Homo sapiens: one gene and its partners. The protein of the gene in region 4 interacts with the protein of the main gene of each other region in a pairwise test. Each region holds a gene or a part of one and is shown on either strand. Other genes may lie near its edges.

What was found.
Region 1: the proteins of DEUP1 (region 4) and ZNF460 interact in binary tests that used the Homo sapiens proteins (3 or more experiments, as listed by UniProt).
Region 2: the proteins of DEUP1 (region 4) and CCDC187 interact in a two-hybrid assay, tested with the Homo sapiens proteins (one large-scale study listed by BioGRID).
Region 3: the proteins of DEUP1 (region 4) and KRT3 interact in binary tests that used the Homo sapiens proteins (3 or more experiments, as listed by UniProt).
Region 5: the proteins of DEUP1 (region 4) and DGCR6L interact in binary tests that used the Homo sapiens proteins (3 or more experiments, as listed by UniProt).
Region 6: the proteins of DEUP1 (region 4) and FBF1 interact in binary tests that used the Homo sapiens proteins (3 or more experiments, as listed by UniProt).
Region 7: the proteins of DEUP1 (region 4) and DGCR6 interact in a two-hybrid assay, tested with the Homo sapiens proteins (one large-scale study listed by BioGRID).

What each region holds. Positions count from the first base shown.
Region 1 is NC_000019.10:57,290,485-57,294,569, reverse strand, and holds the end of ZNF460 (zinc finger protein 460), read right to left. Parts: intron 3,872-4,085; coding exon 2,340-3,871; 3' UTR 501-2,339; downstream 1-500. UniProt on the Homo sapiens protein: May be involved in transcriptional regulation.
Region 2 is NC_000009.12:136,287,095-136,290,594, forward strand, and holds part of CCDC187 (coiled-coil domain-containing protein 187), read right to left. Parts: coding exon 3,392-3,500; intron 2,960-3,391; coding exon 2,865-2,959; intron 227-2,864; exon of another isoform or gene 1-226.
Region 3 is NC_000012.12:52,789,185-52,793,117, forward strand, and holds the end of KRT3 (keratin, type II cytoskeletal 3), read right to left. Parts: intron 3,623-3,933; coding exon 3,527-3,622; intron 3,220-3,526; coding exon 3,055-3,219; intron 2,633-3,054; coding exon 2,507-2,632; intron 2,243-2,506; coding exon 2,022-2,242; intron 1,689-2,021; coding exon 1,654-1,688; intron 1,175-1,653; coding exon 858-1,174; 3' UTR 501-857; downstream 1-500.
Region 4 is NC_000011.10:93,431,742-93,435,241, forward strand, and holds part of DEUP1 (deuterosome assembly protein 1), read left to right. Parts: intron 1-496; coding exon of another isoform or gene 497-511; exon of another isoform or gene 512-764; intron 765-3,052; exon of another isoform or gene 3,053-3,299; intron 3,300-3,500. UniProt on the Homo sapiens protein: Key structural component of the deuterosome, a structure that promotes de novo centriole amplification in multiciliated cells.
Region 5 is NC_000022.11:20,313,738-20,317,060, forward strand, and holds the end of DGCR6L (protein DGCR6L), read right to left. Parts: intron 2,483-3,323; coding exon 2,382-2,482; intron 1,740-2,381; coding exon 1,599-1,739; intron 1,088-1,598; coding exon 938-1,087; 3' UTR 501-937; downstream 1-500. UniProt on the Homo sapiens protein: May play a role in neural crest cell migration into the third and fourth pharyngeal pouches.
Region 6 is NC_000017.11:75,913,543-75,917,042, reverse strand, and holds part of FBF1 (fas-binding factor 1), read left to right. Parts: intron 1-1,903; coding exon 1,904-2,026; intron 2,027-2,110; coding exon 2,111-2,296; intron 2,297-2,744; coding exon 2,745-2,921; intron 2,922-2,992; coding exon 2,993-3,130; intron 3,131-3,223; coding exon 3,224-3,341; intron 3,342-3,500. UniProt on the Homo sapiens protein: Keratin-binding protein required for epithelial cell polarization. Involved in apical junction complex (AJC) assembly via its interaction with PARD3. Required for ciliogenesis.
Region 7 is NC_000022.11:18,909,320-18,912,588, forward strand, and holds the end of DGCR6 (protein DGCR6), read left to right. Parts: intron 1-660; coding exon of another isoform or gene 661-779; intron 780-852; coding exon 853-953; intron 954-1,568; coding exon 1,569-1,709; intron 1,710-2,220; coding exon 2,221-2,370; 3' UTR 2,371-2,769; downstream 2,770-3,269. UniProt on the Homo sapiens protein: May play a role in neural crest cell migration into the third and fourth pharyngeal pouches.

The DNA of each region.
Region 1 (4,085 bases), on a different chromosome or scaffold from region 4:
ATGGGTAAATAAGGTGAATAGACATCCCTCAAAAGGAGACATACAAATGGCCAAGTATATGAAAAAATGCTCAACATCACTAATCAGGGAAATGCAAATCAAAACCACAATGAGATATAATTTCACCTCAGTTAGGATGGCTATTACCAAAGATAAAAAATAAAAAATGCTGCTGAGAACATGGAAAAGGGGGAACTCTTATATATGGCTGGTAGGAATGCTAATTAGTATAGCCATATGGAAAACAGTATGAATGTTCCTCAAAAATCTAAAACTATAGCCAGGCACGGTGGTGTGTGCCTGTAGTCCCAGCTACTCAGGAGGCTGAGGTGCAGGACTGCTTGAGCCCAGGAGTCTGAGACCAGCCTGAATAACACAGCAAGACCCCATTTTAAAAAATGAAAAATAAACAAAAGTTAAAAATACAACTACCATATGATCCACTGGTAATGATCTATACCACTACTGGGCATATATGCAAAAACAAATATATCTATACGTCAAAGAGAGATCTACACTCCTATGTTTATTGAAGCACTATTCATAATAGCTAAGAAATCAGTCTAAGTGTCCATTATCAGATGAATGAAGAAAGAAAACATGGCATATATACACAATGGAATACTACTCAGCCATGAAAAATAAACCTGTCATTCACAGCAACATGAATGAGCTTGAAAGACATTAAGTGAAATAAGCTAGACACAGAAAGAGAAATACTCCATGTTTCTACTCATATGCAAGCATAAAAGGTTGAGAATGGTGGTAACCAGAGGCTGGGAAGGACAGCAGAGAGGCAGATAGAGATTGGTTAACAAATACAAAATTACAGCAAGTAAGATTCCATTTGAATAAGTTGTAGTGTTCTGTGGCACTGCAGAATGAGTACAATTGGCAATAATACATTTTATATTTTCAAATAGCTAGAAAAGCAGACTGTGAATGTTTCTAAACACAAAGAAATGATAAATGATTGAGATGGATATGCTAATTACCCTGATTTGATCATTACTCTTAGCACACATGTATTGAAATATCACACCAAACCCCATAAACATTGTCAATTAAAAACAATAAAAGAAACAAAAAGAATACCAAAAGAGAAATTCCAAAATATTCTGATTAAACATATTAATTACTACGACTGGACTCAATCCATGGTGACAACTACCTGCATATACATATGCAGGTTCACCTGTTAAAATTCCAGTCACTTTATGTATAGTCAGCCTTCACACAATCTTCTGTAAGACTGAAAAATGAGATTCCTTCTCTGTGTTTATTTTCTGAGTTTATCATAATCTTTTAACTTACTTTAGCTACATGTCTTATTTCATTTTTGGTTCCAAATTGACCTCTAGAAAATTGTTGAGGTGAATTTTGAACTATTTACTCTCTCTAAAGAGCAGTAAAAAAGCTGAGAAACCACAATCAGAGGGAAGAATTAGGACTCCCTGGATTACATTATGTACAAACAGCTACAATATCATCTCCATCCTACAGAAAAATAAAGAAGAAATTGACAAGTAGATCCAGATCAAGAAAAAAGTATGGTACTGGGTGGTTAAAGACACACGGAGAAACAATTTTTTTAAAAAAGTCAAAGCGTCTGAAGTGTGCAGTAAAATGTGCCCATTCATATGTACATCCTTTATCTCCTTAAATGTAAAAGTATTTCATAACTCAAGCCTCCATCTTTCTCATAAAGATATATGCTTCTGCTCCTCAAGAGTGGAGACAATGCTGTGGAACAAAGCAGGCTTTCACAAAATGTTTTCAAACAAACCGTTTGTCTACAGCACTGGACAGCAGTGAATGTATACACAGGGAAAATAAAGGGGATGAGGCCCTTTTGTTTCTGAAACATTTCCCTCTCCCAAATAAAATAAGGAGGGGATGACAAATTGCCATGGGCTTGTCAGGGAAGTCTGAAAGAAGCTGTGCTTCCATTTCTTTCTCTTCCCTATGACTCCTCCTCCTTTGTTTGAATGTCCCTGAGATAACATTTCACTGTAAACTAATAAGAAAGATGTGGCTGAAGGTTTTCCTAAGTGCACAGTAACCACTGGGTCTCTTTCATGGGTGAATTATCAGATGTAGAATAAGACTCTTGGCTGTGTCAATTTCTAACATAATTGTTTAGATGACAAATGATGATCTAAAACAGGTTTTCCCACAGAGATGATACTTATGGAGTTTCTCTTCAGTATGAATGACCAGATGGTAAGATGTTTCCTCTCACCACAGATTTTCTTCAGTGGTTATATTAAAAAACTATTTCGCTAATAGGAATTCTTGGATGTTGACTGAAGTGTACGTAAAAAGTCTTTCCACATCTGTTACAATGGTAGGGTTTCTTCCACTATGAATCCGTTGATGTCGAGTGAGGAGGAATGAGCGGCAATTGAAGGCGTTTCCATATTCACTGCACTCACTGGGCTACTCTCAGTGTGGATGATGGAGTGTTGAATGAGATCTGTGCTCTCACAAGAAACGTTCCCACTCTGGATGGGTTCGTGGGACTTCTCTGCAGTGTGAATCCGCTGGTGCCTTGTGAGGGGTGACCTGCGGTTGAAGGCCTTCCCGCACTCCACGCATTCATAGGGCTTCTCTCCAGTGTGGATGCTAAAGTGTCGAATCAGGTTTGTGGTCCGACAAAAGGCTTTCCCACATTGGATGCATACATACGGCTTCTCTCCAGTATGAATCCACTGGTGCCTTGTGAGCCCTGACATGCGGGTAAAAGCCTTTCCACACTGTAAACACTCATAGGGCTTCTCTCCAGTGTGGATGTTGAAGTGTCGAATGAGGTCTTTTCGAATGCTAAAGGCTTTCCCACATTCTTTGCACTCAAAAGGCTTTTCTCCAGTGTGGGCTCTTTCATGCAGGACATAGGTGGAATAGTGAGTGAAGGCCTTTCCACATTGACTGCACACAAAGGGCTTCTCACCAGTGTGAATCCGCTCATGCTGCTTGAGGTGTGACCTGCAGTTGAAGGCCTTCCCACACTCAAGGCACTTAAAGGGCCTCTCCCCAGTATGGATAATGAAGTGTTGAATGAGGGCTGTACTCTCATAAAAGCCTTTTCCACATTCGCTGCATGCGAAGGGTTTCTTCTCATTGTGGCTCTTGTTATGCAAGACAAAATTGGAGCGGTAGGTAAAGGCCTTTCCACATTCATTGCACACAAAAGGCTTCTCTCCACTGTGAACCCGCTGGTGCCGTGTAAGGTGCGACCCGCGATTGAAGGTCCTTCCACATTCACTGCACACAAAGGGCTTATCTCCATTGTGAGTCCGCTGGTGCCGTGTGAGGTGTGACCTGCGGTTGAAGTCTTTCCCACACTCCAGGCATTTATAGGGCTTCTCCCCAGTATGGATGATGTGATGCTGAAGGAGGTGTTTGCTCTTGCCGAAGGCTTTCCCACATTCTGGGCAATCATAGGGCTTCACACGAGGGAGAATCTGCTCATGCTGAACAAGGAAGCAATTCTCATTAAACATTTCCTCGAATTTATAGGAATTTTCCCCTTCATGAATCAAGGAATCTGTAACTGGTCCATATGAGTCAAATCCATAGAGAGCATCTTCTGGTGAGACTTGGTTCTGTATCATCATTGAACAAATACCATCAGCTGTCGCCAAACCTTCGTGTTCAAGGCTCATTTTCCCATGGAGTTTCTCACTCTGTGGGTCTGTCCCTGGTCTCAAAAAGTATTCCTGCATTTCAGATGGCCCATCTTGATCCATGGCCTGCCCCAAATAGGAGTATCTTGGGACTCCCTGTGCCAGCTGTTCCTGGAGTGAGACTTCCTCAGGCAAGGCCAGATGAGAAGGGATAGGCTCTACGGTCTCAGGTTTTGTGCTGTCACCTGAAGGGAACACAATACACAAAAGAACTTATTAAGATAGTACAGAAGAAATGAAACCACCTTTTTGGTGAGAACAATAAGATGAAAATAGTGATGATTTGAAAATAGCTATGATTTGATGGGCTGGGTACAGTGGCTCATCCCTGTAATCCCAGCACTTTGGGAGGCCAAGGCAGGCGGATCACTTGAGGTCAGGAGTTTGAGACCAGCCTGG
Region 2 (3,500 bases), on a different chromosome or scaffold from region 4:
AAGGTGGAAACCACCCAGTGTCCATCGAGGGACGAACGGAGAAGCAAAATGAGGTCCACCGACACGGCGGAATAGTATTCAGCCCTGAAATGGAAGGACATTCCGACGCAGGCTACAACATCACCCTTGGTAGAATAAGTCAGCCAGCCACAAAATGAAACTGGCCCGATGGTCCCCTGGAACTCACGTTCATGGTTTCTTTTGAATAAACATAGAAATGAGCCTGGCCGGTCTTAACATGTGAGAAAGTTTCATTTGTCTTACCTGAGTTCCTTTCTCAGGAAACCTACCATCAGGCCTCCCACATAGAATCAAGGAGCTGAAACGCACCAGATCACCGCAACTGGACAATGAGACGCCAGAGTCCTCGTTCATCACGCTTGCTTCCTTACCCTTCCCTAGTTCCCGTTTCCTGCACGGAGCTGCATTCCTTCCCTGATACGCAAGACCCCAACTTTAGTCAGTCAGGGAGTTGGATTTGAGACTGAGCCCCCACCTCCTCGGCTGCGGCACCCAATTAAAGCCTCTTCCCTGGCAATACTCATTGTCTCCGCGATTGGCCTTCTGTGTGGCAAGCAGCAAGACTGAGACCAAACCCCTGGTGTTTCAGTAACAAAAAGGACAAGCATGGCGTGTTCCTGCTCACGTGAGGGTCCTGGGACAGGCAAATCCATAGAGACAGGAAGTAGAATGGTGGCTGCCAAGGGCTGGGGAGGAGATGGAGAGTTAGTGTTTCATGGGGACAGAGTGTCAGTTTGGGAAGATGAAGAGTTCTGGAGAAAATAGAGATAGGGTCTCACTATGTTGTCCAGGCCGGTCTCAAACTCCTGGCCTCAAGCAATCCTCCCACCTCAGCCTCCCAAAGTGCTGGGATTACAGGTGGGAGCCACCATGCCCAGCTATAATTTTTTAGGTGGGGAAAAAAAAGGACAAGGACATGATGAAGTGAGATGAGGCCCTGCAGCTGCCCGAGACGACGAGTCCCAGCTACTCGGGAGGCTGTCAAGCAAACGGAGCCCGACGGTGGCCAGTGGGGGAGGGGCTGCCCTTGGGAAGGGGGTGGCATGGCGGGGCCAGCATGGGATGCTCACCCAGCGGCATACTCAGGACCTGCGTCCTTGTCTTACTGGACATTGACAGATGCAGCCCCTGGGCTGCCCTGTGACCCAGACTCCCGGGAAAGAATCCCAAAACGAGTGCCTTCAAGACAAAATGGAGCCAAAAGGAGCCAGAGGGAGGGGTCGGGTCCTGCAGAGAGGGGTGGGAGCTGAGCTCCCAGGGGCCAGCCTGAAGCCCCCAATACCAGCTGCCAAAGATACGCCAGGGGCAGCCCTGAGGGAGTCCAGGGTGGGACGCTCTGGTGGGTGGGAGCCCCTCCCTGGCCTCTGAGCCAGCTCCCCCTGCCCGCTGGAACCCAGGGCATGCAGGAGGCCTGGCCGTGAGCTCCTCACAGGTGCCTAGCGTGAGGCCAGGCCAGAGAGTGTTTGCCACTGGCCTGAAGCTGGGGCCTTCCACAGCCCTTCCTGGGCGAGAGCCAGGCTGGAAACTGTAGTGAGACCCAGGCGCAACTCCCCCAAGCAAAGTTGGGGGAGGTCTTCAGACCCCATGTGTGTGATTCACGATGCCCCAGGGGGAGGGGCCTCCAGAAATTAAAATACACAGTAGTCAAAGCAAAACAGAAACACAGAAAAGAACCTAAAAGTAAGCGCTGTGAGGAAGTGGGGAGATGGGGACCCTCACGCCGGCCGGGGGATGGGAACCAGGGCGGCTGCTGTGGAGAACAGGGTGCAAGTTCCCGAGAAAGCTGCACACAGAGGTGCACGTGCCCATGCAATTCACTCTCAGGTGTGCACCCAAGAGAAACAGCTCAAGGGCCAAAGCAGGTGCAAGCACCCATTCACGGCAGCGGCAGGTGGAGCCCGGGCATCCGTTGGCCACGAGGTTGTGAAGAAAAGGTCACCTGCCCACAGCCGGGCATTATTCAGCCACAGACTCAATGAAGTTCTGACTCAAGCTGCAACATGAATGAGCCTGGAAAACGTTATCTTGAATGAGCCTGGAAAACGTTATCCTCGGTGAGAGAAGCCAGACCCGTACTTGGTGATCCCATTTAGATAAAATGTCAAGAATAGGCAAATCCGGGCGGGGCGCGGTGACTCACTCCTATAATCCCAGCACTTTGGGAGGCCAAAGCAGGTGGATCACCTGAGGTTGGGAGTTCGAGACTAGCCTGGCCAATGTGGTGAAGCCCCGTCTCTACTAAAAATACAAAAAATTAGCCGGGCGTTGTGGCAGGTGCCTATAATCCCAGCTACTCAGGAGGCTGAGGCAGGAGAATCACTTGAACCTGGGAGGTGGAGGTTGCGGTGAGCCAAGATCGTGCCATTGCGCTCCAGCCTGGGCAACAGAGCAAAACTCCATCTCAAAAAAAAAAAAAAAAAAAAAAAAGAATAGGCAAATCCGTCGAGGCAGAAAGGAGACCCCCATGGCTCCCCCACAAGGGCTGCAGGAGGGGCTGCCTCCTGAGGGTGGGGGCTCATGGGGAGATGGAATGTTCCGGAACTCAGTAGAAGTGGTGGTTGCACAGCACACGGGGAAGGTGCTCAATGCCACGGAACGTGCACTTTAACGTGGTGGATTTAAGTTTGATGCGACTCTTGCCTCCATGAGAACAAGCACAGTGGTGACCGCCTCCTCCAAGCAGGCAGGTGGCACTGTGGGCGGGCAGGGCAGAGCCTGCCCCACCTGAGGAGCCTCTCGGTCATGAGGCAATGTCACGAGGGCCCCAGAACGCACCCAGAACTGTTCTTGGCCCCCCCCAAGGCCCCGCCCGGCATGTGCAGCACCCACACTTTCACACCCACCTGCCTGGGGCTTCCTGGCCCCCCAGCACCATGCCAGAGGTCACTTTGCTCCATTCCAGCACTGGGGACTCCAGGCTCCCGGAGGCTTCCAGGCCCTAAAGTAGAGGGCAATGCCATCAGAGCCCCCCGCTCGGGAAGACCACACGCCCCGTTCTCTCAGCCTCAGAGCTAGGCCTTGACCTCCCTTGGGGGTCTCAGGCTGCTTCCCCAGAGTCTTGCAGGAATCGGGGTCCCACTTCAGGGGCTGTGAGAGGCAAGGGGGTCCCTCCGGAGCCCCGTTGCACCCAGGGGCAAAGGCGCCCAGGTCTGACCCTGCACCTCACCAGGGCCTCCCCCAGGGAGGCATCCACAGAAGCTCTGGCTTTCTACAGGCAGTGGCAGCGACGCCACGAAGTCCCCAGCCCCCAGCTGCAGCCCTCGCCCGGCCACTCCCTGGAGGACACCAGGGGGCTGGAGGCAGCACCTGAGCGCCTAAGCCTCTGGCCCATGGCTGAGCCGAGTCCCCCCAACCCAACCCCAGCATGTACCCCGGACTGTGCAGAACTGGGGACAAAGGTCACGATGCCAGGGGTGGTCCGGGAGACCACGGGGACCGCCCTGCCGAGGACGGCCTCCCTCTGCTGCCGGTAGACCTCC
Region 3 (3,933 bases), on a different chromosome or scaffold from region 4:
TGTTCCTGGGTCAGACTTTGACATAGGCTGCTCTGGGGCCTATTTCCATCCCTGGGCTTCCAGCAGCCCGCACTTTCCCGGAGCACCTTGATGGGGGAAAAGCTTTCACGATGTCAGCTGGAGTGAGAATCAACACCAAGGGAAGAAACCCTCTGTCCCCAAGGCCCTCTTAGTTCCCCCACATGAGAGAAGACAGGGAGGAGACAGATGTCTGCATGGGCCAGCCTTCACCACTAAGGACGGTAAGGGTACACAGGGTACAACAGCGTCGGGGAGCAGGACCTCTCCCTCCCCACGGTGCTCACAGAATAATGAACAACCGGATCCGCACCATGGACTGAGAAGACGAACTGCCTTTGTTTCAGAGGAAGAGTTCTCCAGCTGCTCTGTGGATCACAGAGCCCACATGGGAGAGGCAGAGGCAGGGAGGCCAGGGAGGTGACCAGGGAGCTCAGTGCCCTAAGGAGAAGGACATGGAGCGAATACTCAGAGGCCCGGAGTGAAACACAGTGCACTTTATTGGCGACAGACCGGAGGGGCGGAGGGGGCTGTGTGCTATATACATCAGAGCTGTAGTGAGCATCCCACCCAGGGAGGGGACTCCGGGGCAGCAGAAGGTGGCGGCCTAGGCCACACCTGGACAATCACAGGCACAGGCTGGAGCCGGAGAGAAGAGCCTGAAATTCTCGTGACTGGGCTTGGCCGGGGATCTGGAAGGAGGAGCAAGAGGCCACAAGCCTTCCAGCGCAGAGCCGCGTTCTTGGGGAGCATGGGGTGGCGCTGGGGGTGTTGCCAATATGGGGGCGTGGGGAGCGGAGGGGAGGCGCTGGAGTGGCTGCGATGCTGATGCGTGCTCTTTATCTGGAGTAGCGCTGGGAGGACTGGGAGGACTGGGAGAACTTGATGCTGCCGCCCCGGTTGCTGGCCGAGCTGAAGCCCCCGCCACTGACTCCATAGCGGGCGCCAGAGATGGAGCCAAAGCCGCTGCCACCGCTGAAACCGCTGCTGCCGCCGCCAAATCCACCGCCGATTCCACCGCCGCCTCCCCGGCCAAAGCCACTGCCTGAGCCGCCGCCCGCACTGAAGCCACCTCCTAAACCACCGCCCATGCCTCCGCCGTAACCTCCTCCATAGCCACCTGCGGAGGCGGAAGTCGTGCTGCTGCTGACCACGGCTGTGGGGGAGAGGACAGGACAGCGATCAGCGACGGCGCCCAGGCCAGCTGCTATGTTATTGTCAATGATCCACCGGGCCCACGACTATCCAGAGCTGATCAAGGCAGCTTTGCACAGGATGTTCACCACGAGCCGTTCCAAGGCCACTAGCTACTCACTCCCCTGCCGTTAAGCCATTATGAATTAGCCAGTGGTTCCTCCCACAGTACAGTCTTGATGACCCCCTTGGAGGGGATCTAGCGTCTGAATTTATCCTCCTATCAAGAGGCCCCCTGTTGGATATTCCACATTGGCCGTCGAAGCCTATTAAAAGTGCCCTGAACCCAGAACAATTACAAAAGCCAATCACTTCCCTCTCCTCTCCCAGAAAACCCCTCCAACTTCCGTAAAAATATGTTTAAATTAGTTGCTACTACCCTGGATTAGTGCAGATATTTCAGAATTAACTCTCATTTTCTTAGCTACTTTCGGTACTTACAGATGCTGACAGCACTCGGACACTCTCCAGACATCCTGTTTGAGAAAGCAAGAGAAAGTGGGCCCCGTCACAAAGCACATCACCAACAAGTCCACGGACCAAGGGCATGAATAGCAACCAGAGCTGAACAGAGAAGCCTGGCAAATCAGGTAAGCTTTCTCCACCCCTCTTTGGGCTGTAGCAAGGAGAGCCTGTGGGCACTGGTTGCATACGTGCCCTGGGAGGGAGTGGGCTGGTAGAGGCAAATGCTTCACCACAAGGCCTCTCTTTATACAGCAGGGCTCCATCCCCAGTTACTTGGTCACTTATCTGGCCCTTGGCCTATGACTTGAGCCAGGGGGTGTGGGAAGACGGGACTGGAGGCTCACCTGTACTCCTCGCCCTCCAGCAGCTTGCGGTAGGTGGCGATCTCCACGTCCAGGGCCAGCTTGACATTCATCAGCTCCTGGTAGTCACGTAGCAGCCGCGCCAGGTCATCCTTCGCCTGCTGTAGAGCAGCCTGCAGCTCTTGGAGCTTGGCATTGGCATCCTTGAGGGCCATCTCTCCATGCTGCTCGGCCTCGGCAATGGCCGTCTGCAGGTTGGCATTCTGGGGCAAGGGAGGTAGGAGGAATGAGCTCAGTAAGAGGGCCCCAGGCCCTTCCTGACATGCAATGGATTATCCCATCTTAAAGTCAGGGAACATTCCTCCTCCCCTAGTGCCTCCATCTTGTCTCCATTTGTGGAGATACTGCCCTGTGGGTCAGCCAGCCTGAGATGACCTCCAGACGTCTATTCCAGGGGAGGAGTCCTGAGATCCTAGCCCCTGCCCCTCAGCAATCATCCCAGGTGCCAGCATCCATGACCATCCCACCTGCTTCTTGACACCCTCGATCTCTGCCCGCAGCCTCTGGATCATTCTGTTGAGCTCTATGATCTCGCTCTTGGTATTTCTTAGGTCATCCCCATGCCTGCCAGCCGTGGTCTGCAGCTCCCCCAACTGCAGAACAGAAGGGAAGATGGGGTATTCCTGCAGCTTTGCTTGACTTGTTTCTACACCTCCAACATCACCCACCAAACCTTCAGAAGCTCAGTAAGGCATTTGCTAAAATGATACTGCATTGTGTTTCAGCAGGGAAACCCCCAAGGCAGCAGGAAAGAGAACATCTGGGTTGTTGTGGTAGAAGATTTTCCTACCCTGTAGTTCCTGAGCAAGTTGGAGTCAGTCCCACATAGCAGGCAACCATCTCCCCCAGGGGCAAGACTTTCTGCAACTGAACCACCATTAGAAGGATGACTTCAGAGGGTAAAACCAAAAGGCATTCACCCAGTGACCACTGGGAACTCACTACCCAGCTGTCCAATAGGCCATGGCCTCTCTGAAACCTCCAGTGGATCCCGTAAGAGGTGACTAGCACCCACCTTGGTCTGGTACAGGGCCTCAGCTTCGGCCTTGCTTCTCTGAGCGATATCCTCATACTGTGCACGAACTTCAGCAATGATGCTGTCCAGGTCCAGGGAGCGATTATTGTCCATGGACAGCACCACAGATGTGTCACTGATGTGGCTCTGCATCTGAGATAGCTCCTGTCAACACAGAGGGAGCTTGTTCACTTTTGGGGTCCCTGTAACAAGCACACAGGGCCCTGAAAGACTCTTGATCAACAGTCTCATTCACTGATTCCTTGCTCCACATGTGTATCAGCCACACCCTGTCCGCAGCCACTCAGAGAACCCCATGTCTGCAGCTTATCCTGTGGAATCCCTTCCAAGGGTCCTCATCTCCAGGCTCATTCCAGATGTCTTCTGGGGCCTATATACCAAAATGCACCAGCCTCAAATCTGGAAACACCTCACTCTCCCTCTGTCCCTTCTTAGTAGGTAACATCCTTACAGCGTCGTAGAGGGTCCTTAAGAAGTCGATCTCATCTATCAAGGCATCCACTTTGGCCTGAAGCTCCACCTTGTTCATATAGGCACTGTCCACATCCTGAGAAAAGAGGAAGATAAAGGCCTTATTCTCCCAATGAACAAACAGCAAACCACAACTGCAGCAAGAAAGAGCAGAGGGGACTGGTGCAGTGATGGTCCTTGTCTAAGACCAGTCTCCACTTGAACGGGCAATTTGTATCTCATTAGGATGGTCTAAGTTTAATCCTACTAAAAAACTAAAGACTGATGAACTAACTCTTTTAGGGATCTTCCAGACTAAGGTGCACCTGACTTCTGTTTATTGCTCCAAAGGCCTGAACTTGGCAGCTCTGTGGCAGTGGAGTGAGGAGATTCCCCCAACCCAGCCAG
Region 4 (3,500 bases):
AGATCCAGGAAATATTCTGGTGTGTAGACCAGACTTGACAATGAATTGTTTATGGGAAGTGGGAGAAAAGAGTGATTAAAGATGACTCCTAGGATTTCAACCTGAGCATTGAGTAGATGCTAATACCACTTTCCGACATGGGAAGACTAGGGAAGAAATAGGGTTAGAGGAGTAATCATGATTTCTAGGTTGGGCATATAAGTTTAAAATGTTTACTAGACACCCAAACGTAGACATTAAATAGTCAATAGGATATGTGAATCTGATATTCGAGGGAGAGATCAAAGCTGGAAATACAAATGTGGGAATAATCGGCATATGGTTGGTATTTAAGTCTATAGAACTGGATGAAAATACTGAAGTATAAAAAAGAAATCATCCCAATACAAAGCCTTGGGTCATAATATTGAGTGACCTAATGGGAATCCTGAAGGACAGGAGGAAAGTTTGATAATGAAGAGGATGGGGCTCAAGGAGGGTCCTCTTTCATTTGCAGAAACAAAGTCACTGAGAGGTAAGAAGAAATAGGATCTGCAGTATAGGAGGAAGGATGAGTTTCTGAAACAGGAGGATGGCCTAAAATTCAGCTACAGATACAAATGGATGTGGAATAATGAGGGAGCTCCCCTCTGACTCCTAGGAGGAAGCCAGGCCACAACGTAATGAGTAAGAAAGTGAACATACTAGGGAAGTGCAATAGAATCGCCTTGCAGTGTTCACTGACCACATGATATTTATGGTCATGAATTTAAAGTGAAACTAGTCCATGCAGTAATTTACCCCCAACCTGTTGGCTCCAGCATTCAGCTGCTCAGGTGTAGGCAAGACCCGGGCAGATGGGCCAGCTTAATTAGGGGTGGGTTTTACCAGGTTATTAGGATAGAGACAAGATACAGGGGTTTACCAGGTAATGAGGATAGAGACAAGATACAGGGAGGGACAAGTTGCTGAATGGTTATGAGATGGACGGGAATAAGCAGAGTTAGGAAGAGAGAGTATGAGGAAGATGATGGATAGTGAAAAGTAAAGAGTCTAAATGAGGTCAGAGAAATGCTGGCGTGGGAGTACTAGATTAAGCATGCTGGAAGGATGATGGATAGGTTGCTTTAAATCTCAATTAGTAAATAATGCAGTTCTCATTGATGATAGTGTCAAGGACATGCTATGTGGGTGGATGCCTGACATGAAGGATTCTTCAGGGCTCCATCTTTTAACTTCTTTTTTTCCTTTTACTTGCCTATCTTGGATAATTTCAGTCAATCTCATGGCCTTGTCATCTATAACTTCCAAGTCTGTCTCTCTGATTCAGACCTATATTCTGAGTCCTAGATTGACATATCTCACTGTTTACTTGAGTCTGTTTAAGTCTCAAGTCACCTCAAACTCATTATTATTCAAAATTGAATCCATTTTCTTCATTCATAAACTAACTAAAAAATTTTATTGAAAACACACTGGCCTAGAATCTGTGCTAGAACCTGATGAATCAGAAATAAGTAAGAGGCCAGGAGCTGTGGCTCACACCTACAATCTCAGGCCAAGGCAAGAGGGATTGCTTGAGCCCAAGAGTTCAAGACCAGTCTGGGCAACATAATGAGGCTCCGTTTCTATAAAAACTTTTTTAAAAAAGAGCTGGGTGTGGTGGTGTGTGCCTATAGTCCCACCTACTCAGGAGGCTGAAGTGGGAGGATCACTTGAGCCCAGGAGCTGGAAGTTAAGAGTTAGCTGTGGTTGCACCACTGTGCTCCAGCCTGGGCAATAGAGCAAGACACTGTCTCTAAATCAATCAATCAATCAATCAATCCATAAAAAGAAAGAAAGAATATCTTACTCTTAATGGCTTCCTTTACCTTTTTCTCTTTCTCAGTAAATGGCATGAGTGTCACTAATCACTCAGGCCAGAATCTAGGAAGTCATCTCTCTGAGATCAGGTTTCCTAGAATCTGAGATGAGATTCTTGTGAAAGCGATTTACCGAGGGAGTATTTTAGTATTTTCAGGAGGAGAGTGAAGGAGACAGGCTAGGGAAGGGGAGGAAAATTAAGCAAAGATGTGGTCTGAGCTACAAACTAGTATAGCCTGGTGTCCCAGGAAGCTTGGCACATGAATTGCACCACAGCATTTGTTCTCACCAAACAAAAAGTTTGGTATTTTACGCCCCTGTGTCCATCAATCAGTCATTGCCTCAGAGAGGATAGCAAATGGGCAGAGGAGGGACTGCAGCCTCCCAGGTGAGGCAGGAGCCTCCAGTTCGGTGGAGGGCAGTTCCCCAAAGGAGCCAGCTGTGAGCTGTTAGTAGCCAACACCCACCCAGCTAGAGGAGAGATGCATCAGCCTGGGGAAGGGGATCCGGGTAGGGGACCAACCACCATGGTCAACCTGTTGCACCACTCAGAACCACCTTCTTCCATAGCTTCCATTCAGGCATAGCTTCTTCACGATTCTTGCTGGTCATAATTTCTGGAAAAACTGTTGAGAGGAAAGTTAGTGAGATAAGCCACAGCCCCTCATGCTGCAATTGGTCGCTGACACCTATCACTGCCTCACCCATTCTAGATTCCTCTCCCCGTCAGCCAACTCTTCTGTTGATCCAGGTGGCTTTTCTTTTGGGGTGAGCCCCTAATGTCCATGCCCTTATTAGGATATGGTTTCTGTATTTGCCAATTAAAATTAAAATTGGGCATGAGAGTACCAAAAGATGCCTCAGAGGATCATCAGAGTACCAAACACATTCCTCACTGCCTCTGTTATGCAGTAGCAATCTTAACTCTTCAGGATGACTTAGGGTCAGCTACCTCTGCCAATATAGGAACTCCACTCTGTGTGTCTGATCTGTTGGCATGAGGAGCCCAAAGTGACCACATGGGAGCCAAAGCTCTAAGTTTGGTGGGACTCTTACAGGTCTCTTGGTAGAAGCATTCCGCCTCTAAGAGCCAGGACCTGTAGAACAACAGAGCCTAAAGATACATAGACAGAAAGCACAGATTCTCCAAGTGGGTTAACAGAAGTGATAGAGAGTGAAGCCATTCCTACTTCCTCCCTTTTGTTCCCAGATCCATGTATTCTACCCATTGGAAACACAGAACCATAAAACAGCCATCGGTTTAAAGTCTATACCACATCCTGAAGAATGGCACCCCAACCTCACAGGATATAATCTCCAAGCTGGTGCCTCAGCTTTGCCCTCAAGAGGCCGTCCCAAAGCTCTATCATGTTAGCATCCTCTGGATAGTGCTGTGTGTGGTTAGGACCAGTGGATACCATGGTCGTGCCCCCACTGCCATACTCTTTTGCTATAAAGTAGGTACCTTTACTATTAAGCAGGGTCTCTCTCATGTCTGCAGATAAGTGATTCTGTGAGCCCTAAGATAGTGGTGCAGCCAGGAAAGGCAAACACGCAGAATTCATATCCATTCTGATAAGCATACAGCATTGCCCTTTCCAAGGTGCTAGGGACCTATTGCAGTCAAGTTGCCACCAAGAGGCTGGCTGGTCTCCTTG
Region 5 (3,323 bases), on a different chromosome or scaffold from region 4:
TGGACACCCCCAACCCTGACTCCACAAGGACCCAGCAGGGCCCATGGGCCCAGGCCAGCACGGAGGGGACTCATGCAGATGCAGAAGCCAAGCTCCCCAGGTGGCCCTGGCATGCCTCCCCGCAGGGCTCCTCCTCAGGCCATTCCTGCCACCCTGAGTCCTCTATCCCAGTGACCTGCATCAGGCTCCTCCTAGTGGTTCCCACAGGACACTGACCAGGCTGCGGCAGGCGCATACTTGCACTCCGGGCCTTCTCCCATGCTCTCCAGCCCCCAGCCCCACAAAGCAGGCTGGATGTGGTCCTCATGCCCTGGGGCTTGGATGGGGGCCCCTGTACAGATGGCAGTGACAGCATCCTGGGACCAGGGCTGGGGCAGGAAAGGCTGGAGGGTCCCAGTCTCCAGGCAGGGGGAGGGGTGGTGGGCTGGGCACACAGCCCAGGAAGGGGCCCCCAGGTAGAGGCCTCTGCTGCAACAGAGGTGGGGGCCCTACCAGGGCCCCGGTTATGGCAGAACCTGCAGCTATCACACAAGCCACATTTGGGCCACACTGAGGCATCTTTATTTCTCTGGGTCACACAGAGCTTGGGCCTGGGAGCCTCTTCTGCATGGGGGCTGCAGCTGCCAAGGGAGCGGCTGAGACCAGAACAAGCGCTCGGGTGGGCCCCAGTGCAGGTTGGGATGTGCCCGGTGGAGTAAGGTGTGAGAACCCCCAGCCTCACTCTCTGCCTGGTCCTGAAGCAGACAGCAGCAGGCTGGCCCAGCCTCCCCTTTATGAGACTATCCTAGGGTTTGACAGCAAGTCCCAGATGAAGGGTGACAGGCAGCTGGGGTCCACCTGGTCTCTCCTCAGCAGGGGGAACCCCCTGCGGGCAGCTGGGAAGGCAGTGGCCAAAGGTCAAGAAGATGAACTCTGCCCAGACTTCTGCTGCCTGTGGCTATGGTGGGACAGGGCTGCCTTTCTGGTCACACTGGGCAGCAGGCGACTGCCAGGGACCTCCCAGTCCCAGGGCTGCATTCCCTGCCCGGCAGCCCCTCTGCTGCAGCTTTCGGATGAGTTCCAGCAGGTTCATCTGCAGCATCAGCTCCTGGGATACAGAGGGGCCCCATGAAGGCCAGAGTGACCCCCAGGCCCCTTTCATCCCGGCCCAAGGGTGCCAGGCAGTGAGCCCACGGGGGCGACCATCCTGTGAAGCCTGGTCATGGCCTGCCAGGACAGGGTGGAATCTGAGCTTCTGCCCCCAACAGGGCCACTCGGAATCTGAGCCTCTGCCCCCAGCAGGGCCACTCGGAATCTGAGCCTCTGCCCCCAGCAGGGCCACTCGGAATGGCATGCGGGAGGGGAGCAGAAGAGGGCCCTGTGTGGCACAGCAGGCCTGGAGAGGGTGGGCAGTGCCCATGGCTGGCTGGCTCACCCTCCTGTAGGGAATGGGCCTGGCCTCCGTGCTGGGAATGGCACAGAAATCCTTTCCAGAGCCTCAATCCTTCCACTTCACCCCCATACCCTGAGCCTGGCTCCCCAGGGACCAGCAGTAAAACCCCAGATGGAATGGGGCCCCGGGGCACTCGGGCTAGGGCAGAGCAGGCCCAGGCACTGACCTGTGGGTTGGTGGTCACGTAGAAGCCAGCCACCCCCGCCTTCTCCAGTGTGCTCTGCTGGTCAGCCACCTTCCGGTCCAGCTCCAGGATGATCTTCTGGTCCATCGCCCGCTGCTCCTCACGGATCCGGTGTTCCACGGCCTGCCATGGGGCCAGGGCGCGGAGGGGGAGAGGTGAGGGCAGCTCTGCCATCAGGGGGCGGGGAGGTGAGGGCAGCTCAAACACATGCTCCTGCTGCCGTCCCCAGTGGCAGCAGCTCTGACACCACCGGTGCATCCTCACCACACCCAGGCCTCTCCTCGGCCATGTGAACCCCTGAAGGGGGCCCCAAGGGGCTTCCACGAATGCCCTGGCTTGGGACTGCCTTAGGACCACACACACATCTCCACAGGCACACCCTGCCCCACGGCTTGTTGGTTACATGCCAGTCTCTGGTTGTCCCTGTGCTCCCTGGGAGAAGGATGGGCCCCTTCCTGGCCCCAACACCCTACCATTGCCTTTGTACCCCCCTGAGGCCACCTGCTCTGTGGAGGCCCAAACCCACGAGGAGCTGCTATCCAGGGGAGCACTGGTGGGTTCTCAACCTCCACCCAGCCCCAGCACACTTGGTATCCGCAAAGAGGAGCCACCTGGTGGGACTCACTAGGCCTCCAGTGTCCCACTCAGGCCCAGGACAGCCACCCATGCCTGAGCCCCCACACCCCTTCAGCTCAGCCCAGTCAGCAGAGCCAGGTGGTGCCCACAGGAGAGCTGGGCCGGCCACCCTGCCTGCGCCCCCAGTACCTCTAGTTCTCGCTGCTGAGCCGCCTGAACCACAGGCAGGTTGTGGGGCCGGCAGGCCTGCTGGGCTTCCTGGTGCTTCTGCCGCAGCGCCTGCCTGAGCACTGGGAGGGATGAGAGCCCGTCAGCAGGCGGTGGGACTCGGCAGCAGCCCTCACCCATGGGCACCTGCCTTGCCAGCCCAGCAGAGCAGCCAGGCCAAAGGGGTGTCTGCAGTGGGGAGGATGCCAGCCTCCTCCATCCTCCCACCCCACTGTCACCCAGGGCCGGGCCCTTATCTGGTGGCAAGTCTCCAGGGGACTCCAGAAGGTGCGGGGCACTGAAAGAGTGGGGTGGGGAAGACTGGCCAGGTGGGGCCAAAGCTGCAGCCCCAGACCCAGGGCAGCTGGAGGAGGCAGGCGGGAGGGAGGCTGCAGTCTGAGGGCTTCAGGGCCCCCATGGCCACAGGCCATGAGACATCTACTCAAGTGTCAGAGACCACCTCAGGCAAAGGCATGGGAAAGGAGCAGGAGGAGCGGGGTCGCTGACCCTGAGCGTGGGGCCTCTGCCTACCAGGGGTGTGGTCGGGCCCTCCACCCTCAGTGCTGCCCTTCAGGGTAGACAGCCCCTCCCTCATTTGCAGCTCCCAGCCCCCGCACAGCGCCAGAGGGAGAAGGGTGGGCAGACCTGGGAGGCCCAAGTTTGGGATGAGCTTGGGGTGCCATAAGCCTGTGTGGCTCTGAGGGGCTCACCCTCAGCCATCAAGTAAAGCTCCACGGTCCTTGCTAAACTGTGCACAAACACAGATGTGTGCAAACTGTCTGGTCTGAAGGGAATGTACAGAGGAAGCGATCATGGGACATAAACCACCATGAAACAGAACATGCAGCACCCCACAGCTGGCGCCAGTGACCAGTAAGTGCCAAATGGCTACAGCTCCCCAGGAGGGAGGGGTCCCTGGCCAAA
Region 6 (3,500 bases), on a different chromosome or scaffold from region 4:
AAACTAAAAATAAAGAAATAAGAAACTAGCCAGGCGTGGTGGCGCACGCCTGTAATCCCAGCTACTAGAGAGGCTGAGGTGGGAGAATCGCTTGAATCTAGGACACAGAGGCTGCAGTGAGTGGAGATCATAACATGGCACACCAGTCTGGTTAACAGAGCGAGACTCTGTCTCAAAAAAATAAATAATAAAAACATTTAAATTTTGTTTTAATTAACTGGGTGTGGTGGTGCACACCTGCAGTCCCTGCCTTTGCTCACATCCTTTTCCTTACCTGTGGAAATCTTTCTAGGCTGAATTCAATGGTAATGAATCTTTCGATGCTACCACCTCCACAAAGCCTTCCTTGTCCTCCCACCTATCTTTTTGTCCTCAGCTAGTAGTTATCATCTTCTAAGGTTTTACAAAGCACTGTTATTTTTTAGAGACAGGGTCTTGCTCTGTTGCCCAGGCTGGAGTGCAGTGGTGTGATCATAGCTCACTGCAGCCTGACCTCCTTGGCTTAAGCCATCCTCCTGCCTCAGCTTCCTGAGTAGCTGGGACTACAGGCGCAAACCACCACACCCAGCTAATTGTGTATTTTTTACTGAGATGTGGGTCTTGCCATGTTGCCCAGGCTGGTCTTGAACTCCTGGGCTCAAGCAATCTGCCCACTTAGGCCTCCCAACATTTTGAGAGTACAGGTGGGAGCCACCATGCCTGGCCAAAAAAAAAAATTTTTTTTAGAGATGGGGTCTCACTGTCACTCAGGCTGGAGTGCAGTGGCAAGATCTCAGCCCACTGCAGCTTGAACCTCCTGGGCTCAAGCAATCTTCCCACCTCAGCTGCCAAGTAGCTGGGATCACAGGTGCATGCCACTATACCCAGCTAATTTTTTGTATTTTTTGTAGAAACGGGGGTTTGCCATGTTGCCCAGGCTGATCTCAAACTCCTGAGCTCAGACAAGCTGCCCACTTTGGCCTCCCAAAGTGCAGGGATTACAGGCGTGAGCCACCATGCCCAGCCAAAAACTTTTTTTTTTTTTTTTTTTTTTTTGAGTCAGAGTCTCGCTCTGTCACCCAGGCTGTAGTGTAGTGGCGCAATCTCAGCTCACTGCAAACTTCGCCTCCTGGGTTCAAGGGATTCTCCTGCCTCAGCCTCCTGAGCTACTGGGATTACAGGCAACTGCCACCACGCCCAGCTAATTTTTGTATTTTTAGTAGAGATGGGTTTCACCACGTTGGCCAGGCTGGTCTTGAACTCCTGACCTCAGGTGATCCACCCGTCTCAGCCTCCCAAAGTGCTGGGATTATAGGGCTGAGCCACTGTGCCCGGCCCAAAAAAATGTTTTTAAAGAAGAAAATAAAAATATCCCACTAGTCAGAGATGTCCACTGCTGACCTGATATCTATCCTGTAGCCATGTCAACGTAGATAGAGATGCTTTTATGTTGTGAAGCATTTTGATTCGCCTCTTCATTTGGTAACTGTGTTAAGCATCTGCCTGGGGTCAGGCACAGTGAAGCTCTCGCCTTGTGCTGTGTGTGGCTGGGCCCACAGCACAGCATTAAGCCACCCTGTGCTTAGCCTGCTTGGCTGATGGGTGAGGACAGGCAGAGTGCGTAGCTGGCGATTCAGCGGCAGGGATGTTGCTGCTCTTTGGCCCTCCCAAGCTGCTAGCCTTGGTGCTGTTGGAGACCTGAGGGTTGGGAGGGCACCTGCTGGGTCCTTCTCTTGGGCAGAATCGTGCGGGCTGGGCCCTGGCAGTGCCTCCCAGGCACCCCTCATTTTGTGCCTCTTTGGGAAGGACGTGTCAGTGGCATAGTGTGGGAGACACTGGTGGGTTCATGCAGCTTCTCAGGGAGTGGCCAGGCGTGATCCTCAGGGCGGGAACCACGCTCTCAGTCCTGCCCTGGGCCCTACAGGAACGCTGGCGGGTGACTGCCGAGCAGTCCAAGGCGGAGTCCATGCAGCGCGCCCTAGAGGAGCAAAGGAAGGTCACGGCCCAGCAGATGGCCATGGAAAGGGCGGAGCTGGAACGGGCCAAGGTGAGTCAAGCCACCGCACTCAGCCCCTGCCCCTGCCATTATGCCCAGGGACACTCACCCCGTGCCTTCACCCCCACATCCCAGAGCGCCTTGCTGGAGGAGCAGAAGTCTGTCATGCTCAAGTGCGGGGAGGAGCGGCGGCGCCTGGCTGCCGAGTGGGCGGAGTTCTCCGCGCAGCAAAAGCTGAGTAAGGAGCGGGCCGAGCGCGAGGCCGAGCGGGCATTGCAGGTGGACACCCAGCGGGAGGGCACCCTCATCAGCCTGGCCAAGGTAGGGCCCAGAGCCTCCGGACAGTGGAGGGCCCAGGGTTGCCTGCGCCCCTCCATCTGGACACATCCGCTTCCAGTCTTAGGAAAGGAGAGTGTAGCACTAATGTCACAAGAGCATAGGGATTAAAACAGTAATCGCATCATCATGCTAACATCTTCCTCGTATTGTCCCAGGTGCATTATACACATTTTATTTGATCCTCATGTTCCCATGACTTTGGTCATTTAGAAATGAGGAAACCGAACTTCAGAGTTGAGCCTGCCACAGTCACGTGGCTTGTGAGGGCAGCACTCCGGCTTGGCCCCAGGCTTCTCTGGCTCTCCCTGGAAGCCCCTGGCTCCACCACCTCCTCCCAGGGGCAGGGTGGGCAGAGGGGACCCTAGAGTCCTGCACAGAGTGCAGCGCAATTCCTGGGAGGAGAATGCAGCAGGGCCTCCGCTGTCTCCAGGAGCAGGCTGAGCTGAAGATCAGGGCCAGCGAGCTCCGGGCCGAGGAGAAGCAGCTGGCAGCGGAGAGAGCAGCCCTGGAGCAGGAGCGGCAGGAGCTGCGGCTGGAGAAGGAGAGGATCAACGCCACCGCCCTGCGTGTCAAGCTCCGCGCCGAGGAGGTGGAGAGCATGAGCAAGGTGCTGCTCGGGCACATGGGCGTGGGCGCATCTGAGCCCAGGCAGCCCTGACCCAGGCGGCCTCCCTGCAGGTGGCCTCCGAGAAGTACGAGGAGGGGGAGCGGGCATTGCGCGAGGCCCAGCAGGTGCAGGCAGAGCAGCAGGCCCGGTTGCAGGCGGTGCAGCAACAGCAGGAGCGGCTGCGGAAGCAGGAGCAGCACATGCACCAGGCAAGGCTCCCTGAGTGTATGGCGCCCCTGCCCCCGGCACCCCCAGCCTCCCACCTCACAGCTGAGTCCTTCTTTCTGGGGGAACGGGGACAGGAGCATCTGAGTCTGGCCCAGCAGAGGCTGCAACTGGACCGCGCACGACAGGACCTGCCCTCTAGCCTCGTGGGTCTGTTCCCCAGGGCCCAGGGCCCTGCAGCCTCCAGCCAGAGTGGTGAGTGGCTCCAGAAGGAAGGGCCGGCGGCTCAGGACTGGGCAGGGGCAGTGCTAGGAGTGGGCAGGCCCTCCTCCAGCCGCTCCAGTTAAGGCGGCCAGCTGGGTTTTATAGTCGCCTTATTTCTTTTTTACACAAATAATGTGTGTTAATTTTAGA
Region 7 (3,269 bases), on a different chromosome or scaffold from region 4:
ACGTTTTGTTGTGGCCAGGGACCCCTCCTTCCTGGGGAACTGTAGCCATTTGGCACTTAATGCACTGGCGCCAGCTGCGGGGTGCTCCATGTTCCATTTTGCCATGATGGTTTATGTCCCATGATCGCTTCCTCTGTACACTCCCTTCAGACTAGAGTTTGCACATCTGTGTTTGTGCACAGTTTAGCAGGGACCGTGGAGCTTTGCTTGGTGGCCGAGGGTGAGCCCCTCAAAGCCACACAGACTCCCTGGCCCAGAGCCTCACAGGCTTATGACACCCCAGGTTCATCCCAAACTTGGGCCTCCCAGGTCAGCTCACCCTTCTCCCTCTGGTGCTGTGTAGGGGCTGGGAGCTGCAAATGGGGGAGGGGGCTGCCCACCCTGAAGGGCAGCACCAAGGGTGGAGGGGCCAACCACACACCTGGTAGGCAGAGGCCCCACGCTCAGGGTCAGCGACCCGGCTCCTCCTGCTCCTTTCCCATGCCTTTGCCTGAGGTGGTCTCCAACACTTGAGTAGATGTCCTATGGCCTGTGGCCACGGGGGCCCTGAAGCCCTCAGACTGCAGCCTCCCTCCCGCCTGCCCCCTCCAGCTGCCCTGGGTCTGGGGCTGCAGCTTTGGCCCCACCTGGCCAGTCTTCCCCACCCCCACTCTCTTTCAGTGCCCCGCACCTTCTGGAATCCCCTGGAGACTTGCCGTGACAGTGGGGTGGGAGGATGGAGGAGGCTGGCGTCCTCCCCAGTGCAGACACCCCTTTGGCCTGGCTGCTCTGCTGGGTTGGTAAGGCAGGTGCCCATGGGTGAGGGCTGCTGCCGAGTCCCACCGCCTGCTGACGGGCTCTCATCCCTCCCAGTGCTCAGGCAGGCGCTGCGGCAGAAGCACCAGGAAGCCCAGCAGGCCTGCCGGCCCCATAACCTGCCTGTGCTTCAGGCGGCTCAGCAGCGAGAACTAGAGGTACTGGGGACGCAGGCAGGGTGGCCGGCCCAGCTCTCCTGTGGGCACCACCTGGCTCTGCTGACTGGGCTGAGCTGAAGGGGTGTGGGGGGCTCAGGTGTGGGTGGCTACCCTGGGCCTGAGTGGGACACTGGAGGCCTAGTGAGTCCCACCAGGTGGCTCCTCGCTGAGGGTGCCAGGTGTGCTGGGACTGGGTGGAGGGTGAGAACCCACCAGTGCTCCCCTGGAGTCCATTAGTGCCCCTCGTGGGTTGGGGTCTCCGCAGAGCAGGTGGCCTCGGGGGGTACAAAGGCAATGGTGGGGTGATGGGGCCAGCCAGGAAGGGGCCCATCCTTCTCCCCGGGAGCACAGGGACAACCAGAGACCGGCATGTAACCAACAAGTCATGGGGCAGGGTGTGCCTGCGGAGATGTGTGTGTGGTCCCAAGGCAGTCCCAAGTCAAAGCATTCGTGGAAGCCCCTTGGGGCCCCCTTCAGGGGTTCACTTGGCCGAGGAGAGGCCTGGGTGTGGTGAGGATGCATTGGTGGTGTCAGAGCTGGTGCTGTTGGGGACAGCAGCAGGAGCATGTGTTTGAGCTGCCCTCACCTCCCCCGCCGCCCCCGGCCCCACGGCAGGCGGTGGAGCACCGGATCCGTGAGGAGCAGCGGGCGATGGACCAGAAGATCGTCCTGGAGCTGGACCGGAAGGTGGCTGACCAGCAGAGCACACTGGAGAAGGCGGGGGTGGCTGGCTTCTACGTGACCACCAACCCACAGGTCAGTGCCTGGGCCTGCTCTGTCCTAGCCCGAGTGCCCCTGGGCCCCATTCCATCTGGGATTTCACTGCTGGTCCCTGGGGAGCCAGGCTCAGGGTATAGGGGGTGAAGTGGAAGGATTGAGGCTCTGGAAAGGATTTCTGTGCCATTCCCAGCATGGAGGCCAGGCCCATTCCCTACAGGGGGGTGAGCCAGCCAGCCATGGGCACTGCCCACCCTCCCCAGGCCTGCTGTGCCCCACAGGGCCCTCTTCTGCTCCCCTCCCGCATGCCATTCCAAGTGGCCCTGCTGGGTGCAGAGGCTCAGATTCCGAGTGGCCCTGCTGGGGGCAGAGGCTCAGATTCCGAGTGGCCCTGCTGGGGGCAGAAGCTCAGATTCCACCCTGTCGTAGCAGGCCATGACCAGGCTTCACAGGATGGTCGCCCCGTGGGCTCACTGCCTGGCACCTTTGGGCCGGGATGAAAGGGGCCTGGGGGTCACTCTGGCCTTCATGGGGCCCCTCTGTATCCCAGGAGCTGATGCTGCAGATGAACCTGCTGGAACTCATCCGGAAGCTGCAGCAGAGGGGCTGCTGGGCAGGGAAGGCAGCCCTGGGGCTAGGAGGTCCCTGGCAGTTGCCTGCTGCCCAGTGTGACCAGAAAGGCAGCCCTGTCCCACCATAGCCACAGGCAGCAGAAGTCTGGGCAGAGTTCATCTTCTTGACCTTTGGCCACTGCCTTCCCAGCTGCCCGCAGGGGGTTCCCCCTGCTGAGGAGAGACCAGGTGGACCCCAGCTGCCTGTCACCCTTCATCTGGGACTTGCTGTCAAACCCTAGGATAGTCTCATAAAGGGGAGGCTGGGCCAGCCTGCTGCTGTCTGCTTCAGGGCCAGGCAGAGAGTGAGGCTGGGGGTTCTCACACCTTACTCCACCGGGCACATCCCAACCTGCACTGGGGCCCACTCGAGCGCTTGTTCTGGTCTCAGCCGCTCCCTTGGCAGCTGCAGCCCCCATGCAGAAGAGGCTCCCAGGCCCAAGCTCTGTGTGACCCAGAGAAATAAAGATGCCTCAGTGTGGCCCGCATGTGGCTTGTGTGATAGCTGCAGGTTCTGCCATAACCGGGGCCCTGGTAGGGCCCCCACCTCTGTTGCAGCAGAGGCCTCTACCTGGGGGCCCCTTCCTGGGCTGTGTGCCCAGCCCACCACCCCTCCCCCTGCCTGGAGACTGGGACCCTCCAGCCTTTCCTGCCCCAGCCCTGGTCCCAGGATGCTGTCACTGCCATCTGTACAGGGGCCCCCATCCAAGCCCCAGGGCATGAGGACCACATCCAGCCTGCTTTGTGGGGCTGGGGGCTGGAGAGCATGGGAGAAGGCCCGAAGTGCAAGTATGCGCCTGCCGCAGCCTGGTCAGTGTCCTGTGGGAACCACTAGGAGGAGCCTGATGCAGGTCACTGGGGTAGAGGACTCAGGGTGGCAGGAATGGCCTGAGGAGGAGCCCTGCGGGGAGGCGTGCCAGGCCCACCTGGGGAGCTTGGCCTCTGCATCTGCATGAGTCCCCTCCGTGCTGGCCTGGGCCCATGGGCC